Linked DNA regions of Homo sapiens: region 1 is linked to region 2. The links come from fine-mapping of genetic effects on gene expression. A gene starts in region 2. The other region holds a variant in brackets. All regions are shown on one strand. Distances are from middle to middle.

Region 1 (4,388 bases), 29 kb before region 2:
ATGTATGATCCCTTTGTATTACATTTACCTATCAAAAATAGGACCATCTGAGGAACTGGAAATAAATGTAAACATGAGGCTAAATGAGGTTTATGAGAGATAAACAGATTATCTCTCATCTGTTTATCTCTCGTTGTCAGGTATGGGTGGGTTTATTTTGTCCTACTCCGTTTGCCCCAGGTAGCCTTTTTTTCTATCATGACTACAACTTCAATGCTGAGGGAGCCCCCAAATGCCCCAAGTTATCTTCACAGTTGAGGGTGGAGGTGTGGGTGGGAGGAGGCCTCCCTCCTGTTTCATTTCTTTAATTCCTGCCTTGGCTCATAAAATAGGATCTTCTATGTACATTTGTACCACTCAGGGAAATATAAAGGGAGCTTTGGATGCCTCACCTCTTTTTTCACTCCTTGTCCTAATCTGTTTTCTGTTGCTTATAACAGAATACCTGAAGCTGGGTAATTTATAAAGAAAAAAAATTTCTTTTTTACAGTCATGAAGGTTTAGAAGGTCAAGGTCGAGGGGCTGCATCTGGTGAGGGCCTTCCTGCTGGTGGGGATTCTCTGCAGAATCCCCAGGCAGTGCAGGGCATCACATGTGAGGGGCTGAGCAAGCTCACATGCTAGTTCAGGTCTCTCTTCCACTTCCTGTAAAGCAGTCAGTCCTATTATCATAACTCATTAATTCACTAGTCCACGAATAGATTAATCCATTCATGAGGGTAGAGCCCTCTCATGATCCAGTCATCTCGTGAAGGCCCCACCTCTCAATACTGCCCCTTTGAGGATTAAATTTCAACATGAATTTTGGATGGGATGGACATTCAAAGCATAGCAGTCCCCTACAAGGGAGAGATAGTAATCTAATTAGCAAGACCTTCTGTCTATTGGACCACAGTGGCAGAGGTAAGATCACTGTGCCCAAAAAGCAACTCCAGCCCCAGCCCTCCTCTCCTATTCCTTGGGTCTATATGCTCTTGGGGACGCCCCTCCTGAGTTAGAGGATTTCCCCTTCCTGCTTCTCGGCCTGCTGACATTCAGGACTTTCAGTTGGTGACTTTGGGAAAGGGAGAAGAAAGCCCCTACCTTGCCCAGGGGCAGACTAGTTTTCATATGAGCTTCAGTTATAAAGCTGATCCTCTCTGGCCCCTGAAGTTGTTCTCAGTTTGGTGGAACTTGGAAGCAAGGGCTGAGAGGGACTGCCATTCTGAAACTTCAGTTCCCTCATTTATGAAAATGACTACGAGGTCGTTTTTAACTAATGTAATATTTTCATCTTTGTGATCTGGCACAAAGATGATATAGACTAGGAAAAAATTACCTGGCATGATTCAAGTGCATCCTGCTAACAGGCAGGGGAGTAGGGTGGGAGGGAAAGGGACAAGCTGGCAGCTCCCAGGCTCTTTGACCCAATGATAGGTGGTGTCCAGTCTGTAGCTTCCCTGCCCTCAGACCTGTTACTCCTCCTTCCCCTGCCCTGCTTGGTATCACAGTGGGATTCAGGGGCAGCTGCTGCCAGCTGGGTTTGGCATGGGAGGTGCTGGTAGAAGACGAGAGGAAGGAAGGGAGAAACCAGGACATTCCTTCCCTCCCTCTGTGGTTTCTTTAGCCGTGGGTTTACCAGAAACGATCAGTCCAAGTGCATGGAGTGGCTTCCTGCTGGTACTAATCTCTCAGTGGCTTCATGGTCCCTGTTGGCCTCTTAGCTCTTCCTTCATTTATGAAGCCAATTCTTAAATTTATTTTCCTCATTTTAAATATTTGGAGATATTTTCATTTTCCTGGTTGGACCTTGACTGCTAATATCTGCTATGATCTGAATGTGTCCCTCAAAATCCATATGTTGGAAACTTAATCTC[G/T]ATGCAACAGTGTTGGGAGGTGTTTGGGTCACAAGGGCTCTGCTCTTTTGAATAGATTAATACTGTTTTAAAAGGGCTTGACAGCAGAAGTTGGATTCTTTTTCACTCTTCCGTCTTCTGCCACGTGAGGACTCAGCAAGAAGGCCCTTGCCAGATGACAGTGTCTTGATCTTGGACTACTCAGCCTCCAGAGCTGTGAGAAAAAAGTTTATGTTCTTAAGTATTCTGGTATAGCAGCACAAAATAGACTAAGACAGTATTAGTTTGATTATGGCCTTAAAGCCTGGGCATGGAGGTATTCCATCTGCTGGATTGAGGGCTGCTCAGGGCTGAGTGTCAGAACTAGGAGATGGCAGAAGAAGAGGCTGTGTGTATGTGTGTGTCCCAGATAAACACCAGTAAGAAAGCCATGGCATTGGTAAGATCATCCTGCATGGCCAAGCTCCTCTCCTCTTCCATGTCACCACTCTATCTTTCCCTCAACCTGGAATATTAATGTCATGTTCTATTTCTCCAATGCCTTGCTCTAAGCTAGCTGTTAATTAATTCCTCTGAAAAATTTGCCTGATGACTACTTAAGAATTAATCAGTTTCCAGGGTATTTTTATAGAGGAAAAAACATTAAAAGATTTTATTTTATAGAAGAAACAAAATAAAAGGTTACTCTTGTAACCTTTTTTGATTACAAGAGTAATATAGGCTTCTATAGACATTTTGAAAGAAAAAATAAAAAATAAACTAAAAACCAATGATAATCCCAGCCACTCAGAAGAAGCTTTCTTAACATTATGATGTATCAGTATGAAGTCTTTTTTTAAATTGCATATATGCACAAGCCTGTGTGTGTGTTTGTGGGTGTGTCAGGGTTGGTTGTATTCATAGCTAAGATTATATCATATATGGTTCTGTACCCTGTTTTATCACATAAGAATCAAAGGCTCTTTGAAGTCAGAAAGTCCCCCTACCTCCCACCCCAAAACATGAAATTAATTCAGCCTAACAACATCGAGTGGGTTCTCTCCTATGTTTCCCTACGAAGTGCTGGTACAAAGGAAGAATGAATTGGAAACACGCCGACATCACCATATACAGACCCCAGAAGAACGATCTTGTGTGTTTGTGTGCACAAATCAAGTGAGAAACTGTAAAAAGGTGCCATTGGGAGGAAGTGGTCAGTAGCAGAATAGGACTGTGGGGTGCCCACCCCATCCACCTGACCCTACCTGGCAAAGCAATGAAGCATGCTCTCCCAGAAAGGGTGGTGTAGAAACCCCCACTTCAGCCCCCTCCTACACAGAATAACTTCTCCATCCAGAGGAGATGTGTCCTCAGTAATAAGTGTCTTTTGCAAAGAACGCATCCGCTGCACAATTTATTCTTAGGTTCTACCTAGTATCTGGCCCGTCTCATAGATAACAAGCATAGTATCGTGTACTGTGTGCATACAGGTAGAATTCACAATTTCCTTGAGATTTTGGGGCTTCTGAATCCAGGAGTAGATCATCTCAGCTTTATTTTGTTCTTCACTAAAAAATAAAGCATTTTGGATGTGGCTATGGCATACAGTAATATATAGCAGGCAGAGGAGACACGAATAAAGACTACCGCCTTAACAAAGACGCTGGTATCACCCCTCTTTCTGTTGAGCTCCGTTTGACTGTGAAATGTTTAAAGGAGAGAGGCTAGGGTGATGGCTCAGGAGATATTATGTTAATGAAAAGCAGGATAAATGCGCAAATGATTTGCATAGAAGGAACCTGATCTAGCTGATATTTGAAGAGGAAGTCCTGGGGGAGGTGCCCCACGTAATGGGCCTTTCTTTGTCAGCCCTGGATCTGAAAGAAGTGTCTGAGCCTAGAAAAACAAGTTCACAGTTTCCGTCTCACCCAGTGAATGCTTGCAAGACTCCACACCAGTGTTTCCAATCAGAGCAATGATTCTGCAATTGTGTGTGTACTTGTACTAATGTTTGCTCTAGTAATGACTAATAATGGCGGGGGCACTGCCCCTGGAGGCCGGTGACGGGGCCAGCTGCCCGTGTGTGCAGATGTTCGTGGTTCTGAGCTCAGCCTGCTCAGGACAGTGTAGGAAAAAAGGGATTCCTGAACCACCGTGATCTTACACAGTCATATTGAGGCTTTCTCCTGCTGGGTGTCATTCCAGTTGTAGTTCTAGGGAGAATTTCACCCCTGCCCCAAGCCCTTGCTCCTGTATCCACAGCTAACACCAGGGCTTATGGCTCAGGACAAGGTCAGGTGGTGGTAATGCTGATGGAGCTGAGGTAGGGCATTCAGGCCTTGCCAAGAGGGTTTCTGGACCTTATAAGGTACCCAAGGCCCCAGACCCTTTCCACCATTCTTCTCTCCAAGGGAAATGCTGCTTTACGTGTCAGCCAATACAATTCAGGGTAATTATGGGAGCAAATGTGTTCTCACCCATATCTCCCTTCAGACTAGATTTAGGGTAAGAGAAAAGAAGGGCGGTGATGTTGCTGAGTGTCTACTATATGCTGGGTGCTGTGCTGGTGTTTTAT
Region 2 (4,388 bases):
ATATGGTGAAACCCCGTCTCTACTAAAAATACAAAAATTAGCCCGACCCAGTGGCACGCGCCTATAATCCCAGCTACTCGGGAGGCTGAGGCAGGAGAATCGCTTGAACCCGCGAGGTGGAGGTTGCAGTGAGCCGAGATCGCGCCACTGCACTCCAGCCTGGGCGACACAGAGAGACTCCATCTCCAAAAACAAAACAAAACAAAACAAAACAAAAAAACAAAAAACCCCACAAAAGCTGCCAAGCTCCATTTCGGCTGGAGGTCAAAGAAGAGTTCAAGGGAAAAGATGAAAAAAATGGCTTCTCTCCATCTGTGGGCATGTCTGTAATTGCCACCCCATCTCTGCATGTCTCCTCCCAGGAACACTAAAGCACCATCTTCTAGGCGTGGAGACATCTGACAATGGAAGTCTAGAAAGCTTCCTAAACCACCTGCTCTGGACACAGCTGCCTTCAAAGACGGACTGCAAATGGATGCTGGCCGGTAGCTTCAGTTACCAGTGATTACTTGGTGTGAATCTACCTGTGCTATTACCTTAGCAAATTTTAAGTCTTTAGTTTGGGCATTAAATGTTTCAGTTACTTGTACATACTTCACATCCTTTTAATGTTTTCATGGACTCGTACTGTTTACTGTTTCTCTCACTACTTCAGTCTAGCAATGCAAGGAACATTTAAAGTTTGCCTGGGTTTGGGGTTTTTTGGCTTTTTTATTCTTGATTCTGCTACTAGTTGTGCGACCTTGGGCAAATTTGTTTCAGTTCCCTCATCTGTAAAATGGGTAATAATAATAATTGGCTCATAAGGTTGTCCTGAAGATTGAATAACTTGAGATATGTTCAGTGCGTAGAACAGTGTCTGGCACATAGGCAAAAGCAATCACAAATGTGGGCAATTATAATTGCTGAGCACCTAACTTTTCCCAGGTATTGTGCTACTCAGTCTGTCCCCGAATCTACGTCACACAAAATATCTTGGCATTGAGAAATAATTTTGATAGAATAAAATGAATCCTTAATTCTTCTTGATTAACTTGGAAATGGCCAAGATGCACACCTGGACTTTCGGTCTCACACAAGAGTTGTTTCATTACCTCCCTATTTTAACAGTGAGCGTCGAGCTACCAGCAGCTAAAAAGGAAATGGAGATTTCGTCTTTGCTCCCAAAGAACTATTTAAAGCTTTAGTAGTTGTGTCATCTGTAATAAAAGACGTAATGCTGACTCAAGGAGTTAATGAGAAATAAGACAACGCCTTCCAGTGGACAAGTAGCCAATAAATGTTAGTTTTTCTTCGTACCAGGAATCCAAACATTCCAGGTATGAAGCCAGATTAGGTGGCTTCACGACTGTGGACTCGCAGTCTGCCCTTGAGGAATTTCTTATTGAAGAAGAAAAAGAGGGGGGACACGGGGCCCAGACCCCCAGCACCCGGCTTTCGAGCAGGCTCCACGGGTCCGGGTCCGGGTCCGTTTTCCCTTTCGCCAGCTGGGGCCCCGTTCGAACCTCTCCCAACTACAACGCGGAGGCTCCGACGCCCCGGCCCCAGCTTTGTTTTGCCTCCGGGAGCCGCGCGCCACCGGGGACCCGCGGGGAGCCGTTCTCACTCCGAAGCTGTCTGCTCACCTGCAAATCGGAGACAGCGCCCTTTCACTTACGATCCTTATAAAAGACGCTTATAAAACATTTTATTCAGTGTTACATTAAAAAGACGTTTATGAAAGCAATTTATAAAGCCCTAGTGGGAGACCGAGATTGGTGTTAATGTAACTGGAGTAAGGGCTGCTCCGATTGCTGCAGAAATTCGACATTAGCCTTCACCGCACCTGCGGAGCAGCGGGAGCCAGGTGAGCAGCAATTTCCCCTCAGGGACTTCCTCCGCGTTCTCCGCATTTTCTGTCGGCGGAACTGAATCCCAACAGTAGAAAAACGTGGCTCCGCCCATCACCTTTCCTTTAAAGGACGCGGGGTGAAGCCCCGCCCACTACGGAGAGCGAAGGGGACTCGCCGCAGATCCGCTGTACTTGCGTCCGCTACAGTATGTCAATCGCTTGCCCCAGCACAGGTAATGCTAAATATGAGGCGTGCGGAGCGGTGCGCGGACCGGCATCGGGAGGGCGTGGCCTTAGGGGGCGCCCCTGTGGAGGAGGCACCCGGAAGGTCAGGGCTACCCCGTCCCGCCGGTACCGAGGGCGGAGAGGCTCCGCAGGTCCTGCTGCGGAGTCGGAGGGTTCTGCCGGGCTGTAAAGCCATTTTCAGCGAGGCCGCTGCACGAACTTCCGAGGGATGTTAGACCTAGAGTTGCCGCCAGCCCCACTGAGCTTTTCTAGTTCCGTCCCGACATGCGCGCCCTCGTTTGTGCGCACGCACGCACGCAGTACGTCGCTACGTCCCGTCTCTAGCCCTGGCGCTCCGCCGGTCCCGTTCTGCAGGTGGGCGTCGCCGCCGACTTACCAACAACCGGGTCGGGGGCTCCCGGAAGTGCTCTTGCGGCTTACTGCCTGGCACAGGTGGGGCAGAGCGAGCCAGGCGAAGGGCGCCTGCGCAGGACATGCTGGACAAATGCGTTGTTCTTGCTGCCTGCTGTTGCGGGAGGAGGCCTTATGGGGGAAGGTCGCGAAGTGACTGGGATTTTTTTTCTCATTTGTCATTTAGTGGGCTCCGTGGCTTAAGACTTGAACCAAGTAAACGAAGTTCTCTTACTGAGAAGTCTCAGTTTCAAGTACGTGTTGTGAAAGGCCTAAGTCTTAGAAAAGTAGAGGATGGAGAGAAGAATCTGAAAATCGACTACTATTCATTCTGTCAGGCACAACACAGTAACGAATAAGTCCATTTTGTTCCTGCTTCGTAGAGTTTACGGTCTAGTGATGGAGAACAGCAGTGCTAAGATCATCACAAAACTGTAATTGTAATGAATGTTTTAAAGGAAAGGTCAACTGGACTGTAGAAGCATTCAGTGTTAAGCTCAGTAAATTGGGGGAGGGATGGGAGAACTGGCTTAGTTTGGAAGGTAATCAGAAGAATGCGCTAAGGATCTGGCGTTTCCTAAACCAAGGACGAGAGTACTGTATTTCAAAAACCGAATGGCCAGTGTGGCCTAGGCATAAAGAAGAAACTGGAGAGGTGGGAAGGGCCTTTTGGCCTGGCGAAGGTGTAGATCTTTAATCTCGGGGCAGTTTTATTTAAGGTGAGGAAGGTCCTGGGTGTAGTGACCGCAGTGCAGTGGGAACTGGTTGCCAGGGCTCAAGCCGAGTTAGGAGACTGGCAGGAATCCAAACGAGGTGGTCGATGTTTTAAACTGACGGTGGTGACAGTGGATACGGAGAGGACTGGATGGATTCGAGTGGGGTTTAGGAAATGAAGTCGATGAGGCTTGGTGTTGGGTTGACTGGGAAAGTGGAGGCGTCAAAGGTGTCTTGGAGGTGACTGGAGGTTGTGGATGGGTAGTGATCCCATCACTAGAGTTCTGGAAGAAGACTAACATAGGATTAACATAGGAGAATAAGTTAAAAAAAAATTTTTTTTGAGAGTCTCACCCTGTTGCCTAGGCTGGATGCTTAGGCTGGAGTGCGGTGCACGATCTCAGCTCATTGCAACCTCTGCTTCCCGGGTTCAAGTGATTCTCCTGCCTCAGCCTCCCAAGTAGCTGGGAATACAGGCTCACGCCACCAGGCCCGGCTAGTTTTTTTGTATTTTTAGTAGAGATGGGGTTTCACCATGTCGGCCAGGCTGGTCTTGAACTTCTGACCTCAAGTGATCTGCCTTCCTCAGCCTCCCCAAAGTGCTGGGATTACAGGCGTGAGCCACCGTGCCCGGCCGTAAGTCCAGTTTTTAATACAGAGTCTTTAGCTCTGGGTTTAAAAGCTTTTTAAAACATATGGTTATTATTTCAATTTAATAGCTAAAGAAATAAGGTTAAATAGTTGGCCAAAGATATAATGTTGGCTTTTTCCAGTGTTCTAAATGGGAGTTCTAGCACGTAAACAGCTCAGCCTCATTATGGAGAGTACACTTTGTGCTCCCTATGGAAGAGCAAAACCAGAGCCAAGGGAGGGGAGCATGAAGGCCCAGTAACGGTAGCGCAGGCCCTCTGGGATTAAGGCTGCACTGCTCAGGCCAGAATGGGGCAACTGGGACAGTTTGCAGGCAGAAGCAAGGACTTTATGAAACTTCTTTGGAAGGTGTAAAAGAGTTCTTAGAGTCATGAGAATTGGCAAAATTAATTTCACAAATATTTAGTCCGCTAGAATCTATGCAACTTTGATCCAATCTCCCAGGAAAGAACAGATAACAGTATGAGCTTGTGAATATCAGCTGTATGAGAAAAGCAGTGAGTGAACAAATAATAGAAGTTATTTTCGTCTCTTCAGTCCACATGATTTCAAATGC

What was found. PIP is the estimated chance that this variant, and not a neighbour inherited with it, causes the effect.
Region 1: its variant is fine-mapped to the expression of MTIF3 in lung (TOPMed, PIP above 0.99). The same link has a PIP of 0.9 or more in tibial nerve.

What each region holds. Positions count from the first base shown.
Region 1 is chr13:27,476,843-27,481,230 of GRCh38, reverse strand. No RefSeq gene overlaps it. Among named protein-coding and RNA genes, the nearest start is that of MTIF3, 28 kb to the right of the region's middle. The variant G/T (reference allele first, on the strand shown) is at 1,856.
Region 2 is chr13:27,448,185-27,452,572 of GRCh38, reverse strand. It overlaps MTIF3 (mitochondrial translational initiation factor 3), which reads left to right and starts at 2,009. Exons shown (of 5, transcript NM_152912.5): 1 at 2,009-2,064. RefSeq lists enhancers at 1,575-1,634, 1,655-2,014, 1,858-2,772.